2 linked regions of the Homo sapiens genome follow. The protein of the gene in region 2 purifies or fractionates together with the protein of the main gene of each other region. This does not show direct contact. Each region holds a gene or a part of one and is shown on either strand. Other genes may lie near its edges.

Region 1 (7,724 bases), on a different chromosome or scaffold from region 2:
CTAAAATATAGGGACACCAATAAGAAATCATAAATTACATGTAAGATTAAAACAGAGGTTTTGAATGAAAAACTCTAATATTCCATCCTCTAGACACTTGAAGAAAAGCAGGTTTAATCAGAGGCCAAGAGGGTGGATGAAAATTTTGCTAAAGATGATAAAGTGGGATCCTGGTACTATTAATAACTTGGTACTTGATAACATTTGCCCTTATTTATAACATTATGTCAAAACATATAACAGGTGTAACACTAAATATCCTTTATGCTCATTAGTCATTGTTCGTGTTGAACTTTAGCTTGTAAATAAATTAGAGAGATGAATAAAAATTCCCCCTCATTGGAACGGCAGTGGTGCTAACTAAACCACTTGAATCATGCAGTTGTAGCCCTTCTCACTTTTGCTTTTCTTTGTTTGATCATTTGATTAATGACTTCTCCACTGGCCCAAAGATCTATAAGGGTAGATATCTCATCAGTTTTTGCTAATCATTACATCCCCGACACTTAAAAGAGAGCCAAGTACACAGCTGCTCAAAAATAATTTTTGAACAGATGAATGGGTGAGTGAATGAACAAATGAGTAAGAAAGAGAAAAAGGAGTGGCCTAAAGAACATAGAATTATAGATGTGTTAAAAATGAGTCTCTGACATTACGTTTATTCTCTGTCTAGCCAAAGAGAAGAAAGCAGTAGCCAAAACAGGGGCATAGAAGGAGTTTCCCAAAGGATAAAGACAGTTAGTAGGACAATTTGCTTGCCGAAAATAGAGTACCTCAGTGTGTCCAAGTTTGGTTTGGTTGCTGTTCCAAAATAAGAGGGATTGAAATTGATCAGCCTTAGGATAGTTGAGTGGCAAAGAAGGCCACCTGCAAGTACAATTAGTGGTATACCAAGGGTGGGCCAGTAGGAGAGATCTGCACAGCAAGCAGGCAAACGGGTGGGTGGGAGCACTATCTGTAGAGAATTTAAAAAGAAAATCAGTCTTTTTTTTTAGTATTACTTTGTAGTTGCAATTCTAAAAAATGTCAGTGATAAAATATTCCTCTGTAACAAGATCATTTTGGTCTAAGTTCTAAAAAATTCCTGTAGTTACTGTTTTGAGTTTTAATTACATATATGTAAATTCAAAATTAGCATATTTTAATTACTTACTTTTTAATAAACCTTGCAGTCTAAGTTGAAATTGATTCAGAAAACTTCTAGTTGTACAACAGGTCCCCAACACAGGTGTCCTTGGGTACACGTTTGTTTAAAAGTAAAATCCTCATAGGGCAGTTTGAAAAATCATTTGGCCGTCCCTTGACGTAAGTATTTAGCATTAGTCGTAGGTGTTTTAGCCTGAGATTGCCAGAAAATAGAGCATGATACAAGGACTTGCTGAAAATATTTTATTTGGGAAGTGTGATCCCAGGAAGCATGTGAGGAACAGATGGGGAGAACCAGGGAAGGATGGAGCGCCAGTACAAGGATGTGTTATCAAGCTGGCCATTGCTTCAGGAGAATGGCTGCTTTGTTTAGCAAAGACCACCAGAGAAGCTCCATGGAACACATTTCTGAATCCTTTCCTTGCAGATGGAAAGAGGAGTATTTATCCATGGGCTCCCACCATAGGCTCTTTAATCTCTCATGCTTCTAGGTTTTGGTTCACATTGTAACTTCAACTAAAAAGCCCTGGGTGGGGGTAAGATGCAAGGGGAGCCCAGAGCAAAGCACTTTCAGATTATACCTGTGTGAAGCTGGTTAGAGCCCACTTAGAACTGGCTGTTCCTGTGGTGGCTAAAAGCAACAGGTAAGGCCCAGATGATCTGAAGTGGTGTATGGAGGCTGTGATACATGGCAAGTAATATGATTTTATTATAGATCTGCAATTTTTTATAGGTTCCTTTCCTATGAGGACTTCAATGTCCTACATACAATAATCATTGGGTCTGATAAAAAAATTCCCAAGTTTTCACCATTTGTTAATTATTTGAATATTTATTGAATATGTACTAATATTTATTGAGTGTGCCAGGCTTTATGCAGGGATAGAAATGTAAATATGACAGATTCTTGACTTTCATAAAGCTCACTGTTTTATCAACTCTATGCCTTCCACTGTAGTGACACAGTGGCACCCCTCCCCCGAGCCACATCACCTTTTTTTAAAGAAAGAGTCTTAATCCATCAGCCATGCTGGAGTGTAATGCGGCAATCATAGCTCACTGTAACCTGAAACTCCTGGGCTCAAGTGATTCTCCTGCTTCAGCCTCCCAAGTAGCTGAGTCTAAAGACATGAGACACTATATGTAGACACTACACTGGCCTAATTTTAATTTTTGAGGAGGTGGAGTCTTGATATGTTGCCTAGGCTGGTCTTGAACTCCTGACCCCAAGTGGTCATCCAGACTTGGCCTCCCAAAGTGCTAGGATTCCAGGCATGAGCCACTGTGTCTGGCTGGCACTTTAAAAAAAAAAATACAGTCCCCTTATACAATCAGAATTATTAGCACAATGAATAGTAAATGCTATGCAAATCTAAAATGACCAGAGGAGTGTCCCATTAGATAAACCACTCTACTATTTTTGCAGGAAGTCTCTTACCCACAGGCTATAATGGCTTATGTCAGCCCTGGGAGTAGAGACTGTTTACTTTATTATGTATGTACTGCCTAGGGATGGGGAGGCTGAAATTTAGACAGATTTCTCTACTTATCTCTAAGGCACCTCTGAGGCATTAAAGAACATTTGGGGAAGCTGAAATCCAGGAGCTACACCAGCAGCAGAAGTGGCCACTCCTCCAATCACCTGGCAGTCTTCCCAGGCAGAAGGTAGAAGATGCCTGGCCTCCTTGCCAGCACTCCTTCCTTGAGCATCCCAGTGGCCAAACCACCACCAGCCGACTCTACCCAAAGTGCCTGGTTGCAGGAGCCAGGCACTCAGGTGGGAAATACCTTGATTCTTTAAAACCTTTGATGCAAAGTTAGCTGCATTCTGTCACAAGGAAAATGCCATGCCAGGGACATATTTATATGACAATAAACTTTTAGTGCCTTAGAAAGTTGCTGAATAAAACTAAAATCAGAATAAAATTAATCAGATGCTAACATTTTGGAGAGCAGGTAAGTTTTCCTAGCTCTGTTAGTGGTTTCCTTCACTCCAGACCTATCTTCTGGCCTTCCGTGACAATGAAGCCCTTGGTAACATCATGCTTATTACCCCCGAATTAGCTGATGTATGAGGAGCTGTCACCGTTCCTTAGTATTCACATTAAAATCTCAGGGCGGAATGACCAGAGCATGCCGGGTGCTTTATGTGGCAGTCAAGGCAGCGAGGCTGCTGGAGGCTTTCAAGGGGAACTTTCCACCCGTGGGGCGTGGCGAGGCCTTTGTGTAACTGTGAACAGGGCAGAGGTCCCAGGCTGGGAGCGCGAAGGCCAGAAAGGTAAACTCAATCGGCATTTTAAAGCGCTTGCTCTAGTGATTGAGCACATAGCCCTCTAGAAGCAGCCCTACTTCGCCCTCCAAAGAGAATTTCGTGTTTCAAAAAAAAGTAACGATTTCCTCTGGGGAAGAGATCTGCAGTCCTGGGGTCCCTTTCTCCTGGTGCCAATGGTAGAGTTGGGGAGAAAGTTCCCGATAGAGAGCATAGGAGGAAATGCGCCAGCTGTGCTTGCCTTAGAGACATATGTGAGTTGAGCTCTCTCTCTCCTCTCTCTCTCTCTCTCTCTCTCTGTGTGTGTGTGTGTGTGTGTGTGTGTGTGTGTGTGTGTGTGTAGGTGGCGAGTGGAGAGGGTTAAGGCTGCTTCTTTGCTGGGGGGAAAAGAAAGGCAAAAGTGTGAGGATACACAGAGCAGGGAACGAGTGGAGTCCCCTCTCCACCGGGGCAGTGTGAGAACGGAGGGCGTGCAGTCAGGGGGTCCTAGGACTTGGGTGGGTGCTGCAGAAGTGACCAGGAGGGCTGACAGGGTGGAGATGCAATCATCAAGCTCCAAATCAATCATCCACCCCTTCAGAGTCCCTGTCCTCCATTAAGACAAAAAAATGTTTAAAACATATTGGGGGCAGAGGAAGAGTGAAGAGATTGGACCACGTTAGCTGCTTAGTCTAGTTCCCTCCTCCACAAGGCAATCGGATGACCCCAGGATCTCAATGTTTAGGAAAGTCGTAGGAGCCCTCACTGGGAGGCACATTTTTAGTCCAGAGGCACGACATTTGATGGTTTAATCTTCACACTACAAACTAGCCTTGGGACGTTATATAAACCATGTTAACCTCGATGTGCCTCAGTTTCCTCTTTGTCCCAGGAGAGTAACGCGTTCTCTGTCTTCACAGGGATGTGGTGCGGGTGAGACTCAATGCACTGTGCGAAAGCTCTCCCAAGCCAGCAAGCACCACGCTCTCCCCGCGGCAGGAAAGTACGTTGGTGTCATCCTAGAGCCCCAGAGGGCTGAGGGAAGACTCGAGCTCTAAAATTAGCCGCTTCCAGGCCCGGCGCCGGGAATGCCCTCCAGTTCGCCGCGCCTCCTCCGCCGCCCCCTCCCGCGCGCCCCCTCTCCCCTGCGCCACGCTCCTAGATCGCTAGTCATCCCCGCCGCCGAGGCTCCTCTCCCCCTCGCCCTTTTCGCTCGCGGTTTGGGAGGAGGAGACTGCGAGAGACAAGCGCGAGGGGGAGACTGGAGAGGGGCTTGGCCGTGCGTCGGCGTCGGCTGTGATGGGGAGCCCGGAGCAGCCAGGCGGCGAGCAGTAGCGGCGGCGGCTGCAGCTCGGAGCAGACAGGAGAGCCGGCGCTCCTCCCCGCAGGCTGCGCTGTGAACTGGCCTGCGGATTGGGATCTCGCGCCTCCCGTCCCTCTCCTCCCGCTGCTGTTCTCTTCATCTCGGCTCCCCTCCTCCGCTTGCGAACCCCCGGCGGCGGCGGCGGCGGCGTCCCGAGCGCAGAGCGCTTCTGCTCGCGGCCTCAGTCCCGGCTAGCGCGCGGTGGGCGCTGCGGCGGCAGCAGCCGGGGGACCGGCTCGCCCGGAGCAAGAGCGCCGAGCACCGGGTGAAGAAGACCACGGGGGAGGCGCCTCGTAGAGCCGTGGATCGCCAGCGGAGGCAAGGGTGCGTGGGGATTTGTAGCGTGATGATTTGGCTGCCTGGTGCACCGACTGGAGCGCGCCTGCCGGAGCACAGCCTCAGCTGCTGGGTGCAAATGGGCTGCGAGGTGGGCTGGGGAGGCGAGAGCCGACGAAGCGCGTGGGGGAAACTTTTCACCTTGTAAAGTTCCAACCTCCGCGCAGCCCCGAGCCGCCGTTGCTACCGCTGCAAACAGGAGAAGAGGGTGGCTTGGCCCCGCGGCGGGAGCCGGGAGGTTTACACGGAGAGTTGGCCAAGTTTGGGGCTGAGGATCTGGGGAGGGGTTGCGAGGGGGGTTGCGGATCAGTGCACCCATCCCCGGCTCCCAGCCGCCCCTGCAGGTGGATGAGAAGGTTCAGGTGGCGAGCCTGCTTGGCAGCCGGTGCCTCTCGGGCGCAGTGGGGGATGTTCAGATGCCGATGGATGATGCACTTAGGGGACCCCGAGGTGCAAGTTGGGTCATCGCTAGGCGAGGCGCGGCGCAGAGAGGGAGCCCAGCCTCCACTTTCGCTAGGAAAGGGAAAGGGTTACCAGTCTGCGGGTCCGTTCCCCACGCCTGACTCGGGCTTGCGGGGCTTGTGGTCAGGGTGAGATGTAGTGAACGGCGGCGGCGGCTCTTCGACTGGGGACGACATCCTTTACGGAGTGGTTGGGGACAGAGACTGTCCCTGCTATCTTGACAAGGAGAGGGAACCGGAATGCTTTGCGAGAGTGCATGATTTTTGGCGGGCGTGTGGGAAGGCTGCTTGTCTTTGAAAAGAAAGCAGCGCGGGTCTGACCATCCCCAGGAGTGCGGAGGAGCTGTCTCCGGATTGGGGGCGAGAACGCCAGGGGCACCAGCTCCGAGCTCAGGCCCCACTCCCGGGCGGTTCGGGACGAATCCCCTCTACAGGCCAGTGTGTGTGCAGGGCAAGTGTAGGGGGCTGAGGGGCGCTGGCGGGGAGGCAGTAGAGGTGGCCTGGACCATCTTGGCGCGGCGCGCGGTGAGCGCGAGGATTCCGCCAGTGGGAGTCGCTGAGCTAAAGTGCATCTGGCCCCCCGGCTTGCATGATGGCGAGCCCGGATATTTTTAGCTGTGCTGTGATCTGAATTCCCTCCTCTCCTCTCTCGTTGACTTTTGTCACATGTGCTTTCCGAGATGGTTTAACATTGAACATGATTGGGCTTTGCGGAAAGCAACTTTTATTCACTTTCCACCGTTCTCCTCTTGTGGGCGGGGGGTGGCGGGGGCGTGCTTGGGGCAAGGATGCAGGGGTGGCCGGAGTTTGGCTGCGAGCTAAGAGAGCCGCTTGGGTTGCTCGGGATGAGAGGAACAGGGGTGCTCCCGGGGTGTGGGTGTGCTGGCGGTGACATCCTGAGGCTGCAGCTCGCTGGAATAATGGGCTCAAACCAGGCGGTGGAGAGGGGTCCCCGGAATGGACGTCGGGGGCGGGGAGGCTGCGGAGACCCTGCGAGGTCTCCGTGAAGGACTAGGAGGGGCTCCCGGGAGGGAGTGGCGCCTGCGGCCCGGAGCGTGGGCGGCCGGTGGCTCTGGCACGCGGAATCTGGTGGACTCCTAGCGCCTCGGCCGGGAGCTCCAGCTCCATCCCGCCGCCGCCGCGCGCCCAATGGGACTCAGCTTCGGGTTTGGGCGAACCTGCAGCAGCCGCGGCGGGAGGGAGGGACGCTGGGACCGCGGTAATGATTGAAGTCTTTTTCCCCCCTCTCCCCTCCTCCCGCTCCTCTCCGCCCCCAGACTCTGGCGCGTTTGTTTTCCAAGTTGGATCCCACTTCCATTTACAAGTGTCAGACAAACCCGCGAGAACCTCCCCCAACCCGCCCCGGCCCCAGCCAGACTAGGGAGGGCGCCCAGGGGGAGGGGGCGAGCTGTCTGGGCAGTGCCTGGGGAGGTGCGACGCGCCCACCCGGGGCTTGAGCGGCTGGGGTTCCTGTGCGTGGGTCCTTAATGTTTAAAAGATACACATGAACAGCAACAAAACCCAAACCACTCGTGGCCACTTGTTTTCTGCCGCTTTTCTCCCACTTGCCTCGGACATATTAATTTTCTGGCCCCGACGCTAGTCTTTTCAAAGGCGAGTCCGGGGTAGTGGGAGGAAGGGGCGGGGGAGCAGGCCTACCAGTTCATCACGGTGGATTTGTGCTCCTGGCTTTGTTGCTAGGATTAGATTCTCTGATTGTGCCCAGGCTAAGTTAAAATAAAAGCAGAGAGACAGAGAAGCGGCCAGAAAGACTGCAGACGACTTTGCCTGGATCCAGGCGGCAAACTCAGGTGGTGGAAAGGGGAAGCCCGCCATCTAGGAATTGAGGACCGAGGTGCCCACATCTCAGTATCGATCAAACAGAGCCCAGATTTCTTCTCCACCAGCAGACACTGAACTTCTCTTCACATTTACTGAATGCTTGAATGATGTTCTGGTGTGACGTGGAGATTTGAATCTGAGAAGGAAAGGAAGGGAGGAGGGGATGGAGGAGAGAAGAGAGAAGAGATTTGAGAGACTGAGATTCTTCAGAATCCTAGAAATTGCACAAAGCCAACTGCTTCTGCTTTTTTTCTTTCTTCTTCTTTTTTTTTTTTTTCTTTATTCCTAAATTGGAGCAATTGAACAGTGAGAGAATAAGGAACAGCCA
Region 2 (7,443 bases):
TTTTGTAGCACTGTAGCTAAAACTTCCAGACACAGAGATTAGTATGAGGGTACAATCTGAGGACATGGCACCCTGAAAATGCAGGAGACGATAGTGTATATACATGGAAACAATCTGAGGGTGTGACACCCTGGACGCACAGGGTCTCCAATGCCTTGGACGTCCTGGACACAAGCTGGAGTTTTCTTTTCTTTCTTTTGAGGCGGAGTTTCGCTCTTATTGCCCAGGCTGGAGTACAATGGCACGATCTCGGCTCACCACAAACTCTGCCTCCCGGGTTCAAGCGATTCTCCTGCCTCAGCCTTCTGAGTAGCCGGGATTACAGGCATGCGCCACCATGCCCGGCTAATTTTGTATTACTTTAGTAGAGACAGGGTTTCTCCATGTTGGTCAGGCTGGTCTCGAACTCCCAACCTCAGGTGATCCACCTGCCTTGGCCTCCCAAAGTGCTGAGATTAGAGGCGTAAGCCACTGTGCCCGGCCTGGAGTTTTTTATTAAAGCAATTCTTCAGATCTTTGTTGCAACAGCAAATGAGGCAGCACATAGACACCTGCTTCGTTCAAAAAATCAGCAGGCAGTTTGGTCTAAACCAGCCCAGTATACTTAGTTTGAGGCACGGGGGTGGGGCAGAAAGGACACCTGCCAGATGGCTCTGGGCTGACGTGCGGCCAGCATGGAGGGAAGGAGGCCCTTTGGATTCCCCACTTTCTGCGTGGCTTCTGCTGGGAGTGGACATGAAGCAGGCAGAGGCTGGGGCTGGCAAGACCAATTGGCATTTTGTGAATGGCTAAGTAGCAGAAGCACGTTAACACATGAATATGGTGTTTTAGAAAATAAATCCCAACAATCCACTGAGGTTCAGTTTTCTTCAGTTGTACTACAAAAAAAAAATGGAGGAAAAGAAGAGTAAAGACAGACTGACGGGGAGGAGAGAAAGAGAGAGTGGGGGGTGGGTGGGAAATGAGAGAGAAGAAAGAGAAAGGATGGCTGCATCTCAAACGGTGCTTATTCCCAGGGGTTCTACCGCAACCGCTCAGAGGATCCTGTGGGTAGAGACAGGAATGATAACTCTGCTCACTGTGAGAGACGGCAAGACAGGTCTTGGGAAAACTTTGGTCTCCAGCATTTGGGGCCTGTTTTCCTGCTTGGCCTTTGGGAGAACATGCTTTCGGGTGATCACAGGAGATCTTGGCTCCTTGGCTTTGAATTTGGATTTGTAGCTTTGCACTCCCCGTTTCTGCAGAAGCTGCAAGGCAGCAAGGTAGCGAACGTTGCTGGGGTCTGGAGGGCACGCCAGGTTTTTCTCAGACAGGAGGGACCAATGCAGGCAGCGCTGCTCCGGATCGGTCAGCAGGGATATCTGGGCCGCTGGGGAAGGGGAGGATGGCGTGTCGTTGACCATAGGGTGTTTGGCCAGCTCACTGGCTCTTTTTTCACCTTTCCCATCTGCTGTTTTCAAGCCATATGCATAAGCCACACACCCATCCTTTTCCACATCCAGCACCTTCTCTTCTGACTGCAAGAAAGAGTTCTTACTCTTCTTACCCAGAACATCCAAAGCATTTGAAAGTGAAGCCTTCAGGGGAGGCAGAACTAGGAGGGCCCTGGAAGTCAGGGGGCCTGGGATGGACAGCCCTCTGTGGGCCCCTCCACTGGGATTCCCAGAGGCCTTGCCCCTATTAGTGCCGGGGATGGCCCAGTCTTTGTTGCACCAAATAAACTCCTTGATTTGCAGACTTTTTTTCTCTGCTCGAAAGTAGGTGGGAAAGCAGATGTCGCTAATTGCCCTGGAAGCAGTGCTGGGGCCCTGGGGGGCTGCCTGAGTCTGGGAGGGGCTGCTCTGATCCTTCTCTGGGCCCCCCTCAGTAGGAGGCTTGGTCTGGAGGCTCCAGTGGGAGAGGTTAACACACACCAAGCAGTCGCTGCAGGCACCTTCCCCTACCCTCGCCTTTTTTGGTATCTTCCTCGGCCAGATGCAGGCAGCTGGAGAAGTCCTTCCCCACCCTTGGACCTGCAAATAAAGCGGCATGTTACTCCTCCAGCTGAGGGGCCCAAACTGTCCTTGCCCCAATTTTGGCCACATTCCCATTTTGGCAGTCTTATGTGAAACAATATTCTTATTTTTATTTATTTTTTTACTACCCCTTCCCCCACTAATAATTTTCTTAAAATTCATTCACTTAAAAAAAAAATCCTTCAAAGTTGCAAAGCATGAAAAAGTGTAATACCTACTTTCACCGCTATAAAGCAATAACAGTATTTGTAATAGTATTTGTTAATCCTAAATACTAGCAAGAGCATTTGTTAATACTAAAACACTAAGCAACAGTATTTGTAAATGGCCACTTTGATGTGCTGACTATATTTCTTTTCAAATGCACATTTAAATTTGAAGCCATTAAAATAAAATGAAAACCGTTCATACTTGTCCCACCAACAAGGATTTCGGGCACCGCCAGTCTCTGCTTCCCTTACCTGGGGAACACTGTTGCTTGGAGAGGCTGGAGGGAGACCGAGGAGCAGAGGCAGGTCCTGGAATGCAGAGGAGCCCTGCGTACCCAGGGATACCTACTCCCCATACACGCCCAGAGTCCTCTGGCTGATCTTGCCACAGAGATCACCATTAAAAAAGGGTTGCCAGTAAAAATATAGGACCACATTTTGGACATACTTATACTGATAAATTAGGTATTTATCTGGTAATCCTATGTTTAATCACTGGATTAGACCAAGTTTTCTCATAGTTTTATGCTTTTTTTTTTTTTTTAGTTTTCTTATAGTTTTAAATATAGGATTCTATTGTTGATTCTATGAATTGTTTAAGAGTAAGCCTGCAGACCAGGCGCAGTGGCTCAGGCCTGTAATCCCAGCACTTTGGGAGGCTGAGGTGGGCAGATCACCTAAGGTCAAGAGTTTGACACCAGCCTGGCCAATATGGTGAAACCCCGTCTCTACTAAAAATACAAAAATTAGCTGGGCATGGTGGGCACCTATAATCCCAGCTACTCAGGAGGCTGAGGCAGGAGAATCGCTTGAACTCAGGAGGCAGAGGTTGCAGTGAGCCAAGATCGCGCCACTGCACTCCAGCCTGGGCGACAGAAAGAGACTCCATCTCAGGGAAAAAAAAAAAAAAAAAAAAAACCCACAGAGTTCTGAGTAGAGCCATTAGGAAAGAAGCCTCAGTTCTCTCAGGGAGTTCAGCACAGCTGCTAAGGAGCTCAGGGTTCTAGAGTCCAGGAGACCTGGATTCAAGCCCTGCCTTGGCCACTTATTGGCTGGGTGATCTCGAGCATGTAACTTTATCTTCCAAGTGACTCAGTATACTCATCCACAAAGCGAGGCTGGGAAGAAAACTTGCCCCATATGGCTATTGAGAGGTTAGATGAATTAATGTATCCAAAGTACTTAGTACTGTGCTGTCCACATACTAAGTGGCCATAAATACCCACAGTAGGTGCTGCTCTTATCATCAGTAATATTTTACCTCAATTCCAGGGTTTCTACATGTCATTGATTCCACATTTTTTGGTAATATTAACTATTTTTGGGAAAAAGAGGCTTGCACCAAAACACTGATGTGCGAGAGACAGAAAAGCTGTGACTCAGAAAGATACTCACTGCCTCTTCCCATCCAGTTCCAATAATAAACTCTTTGGCTTTTTCATCTTGTTCAAGCGTAATGTCACTGACATCGAGAAGACAATAAACATGATTTTTTTCACTTTTTCCATCTGGACAAGTATAGGTTGGTTCTGTTTCTTCTGTGAACTGAATTTCATTATTTTCAGCATTTTCTAAGTCAGTCTCATTTTTCTGACAGAGATCCATTACTGTGATGCTTGCTTAAAGTTTTTAACATCTTCTTGCTGTTTAAAAACATGAATGGAACTTCGTTTTTAATATTAATTTTTTTTTAAAAAAAGCAATGCAATACTCAGGTGAAATATCTTCAAGACACATTCAGGAATATGGCCGGCCGCGGTGGCTCATGCCTGTAATTCCAGGAATTACTTTGAGAGGCCAAGTCAGGCGGATCACTTGAGGTCAGGAGTTTGTGACCAGTCTGGCCAACATGGTGAAAGCCAGTCTCTACTAAAAATAAGGCGGGCACCTGTAATCCCAGCTACTCGGGAGGCTGAGGCAGGAGAATCACTTGAACCCAGGAAGCAGAGGTTTCAGTGAGCTGAGATTGGCCACTGCACTCCAGCCTGGGTTAGAGAGTGAGATTACATCTCAAAAAAAAAAAAGAAAAGAAAGAAAGAAACATTCAGGAATAGACTGAGAACAAATATTACGCAACTATCCACTGCCAACCACTGGCACTATGAAAGATAAGGCAGCCAGGAGTGATGGCTCACACTTGTATTCTCAGCACGTTGGGATGCTGAGGCTGATGGATCACCTGAGGTCAGGAGTTCGAGGACAGCCTGGCCAACATGGCGAAACCCCATCTCTACCAAAAATACAAAATTAGCTGGGTGTGGTGCTGCGCACCTGTAATCCCAGCTACTTGGGAGGCTGAGGCAGGAGAATCACTTGAATCCGGGAGGTGGAGGTTGCAGTGAGCCAAGATCACGCTATTGCACTCCAGCCTGGGCAACAGAGCAAGACTCTGTCTCAAAAAAAAAAAAAAAAAGAAGATATGAAGAGACATAGGGAGAAGATGGCCATCTACAAGCCAAAGACAGCAGCCTGGAACAGAGCCTCCTCTCACAACCCTCAGAAGGAACAAACCCTGCCAAAACTTTGATTTTGGACTTTGAGAATCCAGACCTATGAGGTAATACATTTCTGTTGTTTAAGCCACTCAGTCTGTCGTACATTGTCATGACGCCCCTAGCAAAGTAAAACAGTAGGTGATGGTGATAACCCTATCTACCATTAATGGATGTTTTTCTGGAAAATGCACTTGGCATTTAGAATCTAGACAAAGGGTCTGCAAAGTTGTAATCCTGATCAGAGCCAAAGAGCTGAACAGTTCCAGTCCTATTTACCGGCTGTGTCCCTTGAGCGATGACTTACTTTTCTGGGTCTGTTTGCTCATCTATAAAAAGGGCTAAAGCGGCTGCATGCGATGGCTCACGCCTGTAATCCCAGTACTTTGGGATGCCGAGCTGGGTGGATCATTTGAGGTTAGGTGTTGAGACCAGCCTGACCAACATGGTGAAACCCTATCTCTACTAAAAATACAAAAAAGTTAGCCAGGTGTGGTGGTGCACACCTGTAGTCCCGGCTACTCAGGAGGCTGTGGCAGGAGAATAGCTTGAACTTGGGAGGCAGAGGTTGCAGTGAGCCAAGATCGTGCCACTGCACTCCAGCCTGGGCGACAGAGTAAGAATCCGTCTCAAAAAAAAAAAAAAAAAAAAAGCAAAAGCATGATACCTTCCTACAGATAGGGGTTCCTCCTGTGGACCCCACAGGCTGCAGAAATTAACTAGAATACCTGAGCAGTGACCACCAAAGCTCTGGCTTGAGTGCTGATAAGCACCCAGTGTCTTCTCAAGAAGTTCCTTGCTTGTGATAAGACAGGAGGCACAGGGGACACCCACTCCTTGCTTTCTCTCAGCCAGACGTGACCCATGCCAGAAAACTAGTTTTTTTCATTTTTTGTTTAGGAAGAGATCGGTACTTCTTATGACAAATCTGTTGAATTACCAATTTGGCTTTTTCACATAGGCTTAGTTTTTTTATTTTGTTTTGTTTTGTTTTGTTTTGTTTTGTTTTGTTTTTGAGACAGAGTCTCACTCTGTTGCCCATGCTGGAGTGCAGTGGTGCGATCTTAGCTCACTGACAAAATTTACTGGAGTAAATTTTGTAAAATTTTAAGTTGGAAGTTGTACCTCCGCTTCCCAGGTTCAAGCAATTCTCCTGCCTCAGCCTCCCGAGTAGCTGGGATTACGGGCGTGAGTCACCGTGCCTGGCCAACACTACATTTTTATAAGCACTTTACTTATGTAATGAGGGTTCACAAGGAACTGTATTGATTCCTTGTGACTCAAAACTAAGAATCATCCCTGAGTCAATTAACACAGTATTATTAATCAGAAGGTCAGATTACTGCATACCAGATCACCAGATGCACCTTCGGAACACTGGTGTACTTCAGGCAGGATCAACACGCTCCGCTACTAAAAGAGAATATTGGGGTCTTTTCCTAATTAAAAAGAAATTCAGTTAGTGGATAGGAAAGTTGTATTTTAAGTTTCCCTTCTCTAAACATACTATCAAGTTGTTGTCTGTCTCGCTCCGTCGCCCAGGCTGGAGTGCAGTGGTGTGATCTCAACTCACTGCAACCTCTGCCTCCCGGGTTCAAGCAATTCTCCTGCCTCAACCTCCCAGGTAGCTAAGACTACAGGCGCCTGCCACCACGCCTGGCTAATTTTTTTGTAACTGTCGAGTTTTATTACCCATTCTTGTCTTCCAGCTCACGTTAGCAGATGACACACAGTAATGGCCAAGAATCAATAGATCAAAGAAAAGAGTGGATATGTGATTCCTTGCAATCTGTATGCAGTTTTACTTTTATGTTGGAATGCAGACATCTATATTCATATAATATTTTCTGGTAGTAAAATTATGCCTGACTTACACATTTGACGTAAACCAAGAGCTCATGCCATCCCATTTCTTGGCTTCCATTGAACTTTACAACCTGATTCAGTTTGAGAATCACCAGGATAAAGCATACATCAAAGTCCATACAAACGTTTTCCACCACATCAAGAAAACACAAAGATCACAGTGAAGATGTTGCCATGGAGACGCATTTGCAGATGCAACTCTAAAATTGGATTTAGAGTATAAAGCGGGAAAGCTCAAATATGTAGGCCAGAAGGTATTAAACTCTATTACACAAGCTATTAAAGTGATTAGAACCAACATGTACAAAAGAAATAGTTGACTCTGATCCAAGCCCCCAAAGTGCATGTTTGGATAAACAAGAATAAACCCAAAGAAAAACTGATCAAAGAACTTAAGATATTTGGAAACGAAAGAAAGATGGTGAATGAGAGCCTAAAAAATATAGCCTATGGAAATTTACCATAATCCAGAAAATACCTTTTCTAGTAGCATTTAAAGACAGATACAAAAAGGAAATGATCAGCCAAAGAAATGTAAAGTGGTTTATTTTCTTTTACCAATAACATGTTTTGCTTCAAAATAATGTGAGGTTGAGGTTAGGGAGGGAATAGTGAAACCAAAGTGCCCTTAAGTTCTGTTTGTTGTAGATGGGTATGAGGACATGGGGATTAACTGTACTATTATATTTTTATGTAAGCATGAAACTTCCTGTAATAAAACTTTTAAAGCCATGATGTTATCGGAGAGCTCCAAGAAATGAAATGTGGAATAATGATAGAAGCCAGGGTACAATGAATTTTGACCTTAAGCAAACTGAAATAAATGTTGTTTTTTGTTTGTTTGTTTTGGTTTGTTTTTTT

The links. The genes of interacting proteins can lie anywhere in the genome.
Region 1: the proteins of C16orf46 (region 2) and FAT3 purify together in Homo sapiens (affinity purification with mass spectrometry; 2 studies listed by BioGRID and IntAct, with this or other methods). This does not show direct contact.

The regions. Positions count from the first base shown.
Region 1 is NC_000011.10:92,220,094-92,227,817, forward strand, and holds the start of FAT3 (protocadherin Fat 3 isoform 1 precursor), read left to right. Parts: upstream 1-4,724; 5' UTR 4,725-5,081; intron 5,082-7,724.
Region 2 is NC_000016.10:81,060,127-81,067,569, forward strand, and holds the end of C16orf46 (uncharacterized protein C16orf46), read right to left. Parts: intron 6,156-7,443; 5' UTR 6,067-6,155; intron 3,868-6,066; 5' UTR 3,830-3,867; coding exon 3,620-3,829; intron 2,013-3,619; coding exon 1,035-2,012; 3' UTR 854-1,034; downstream 1-853.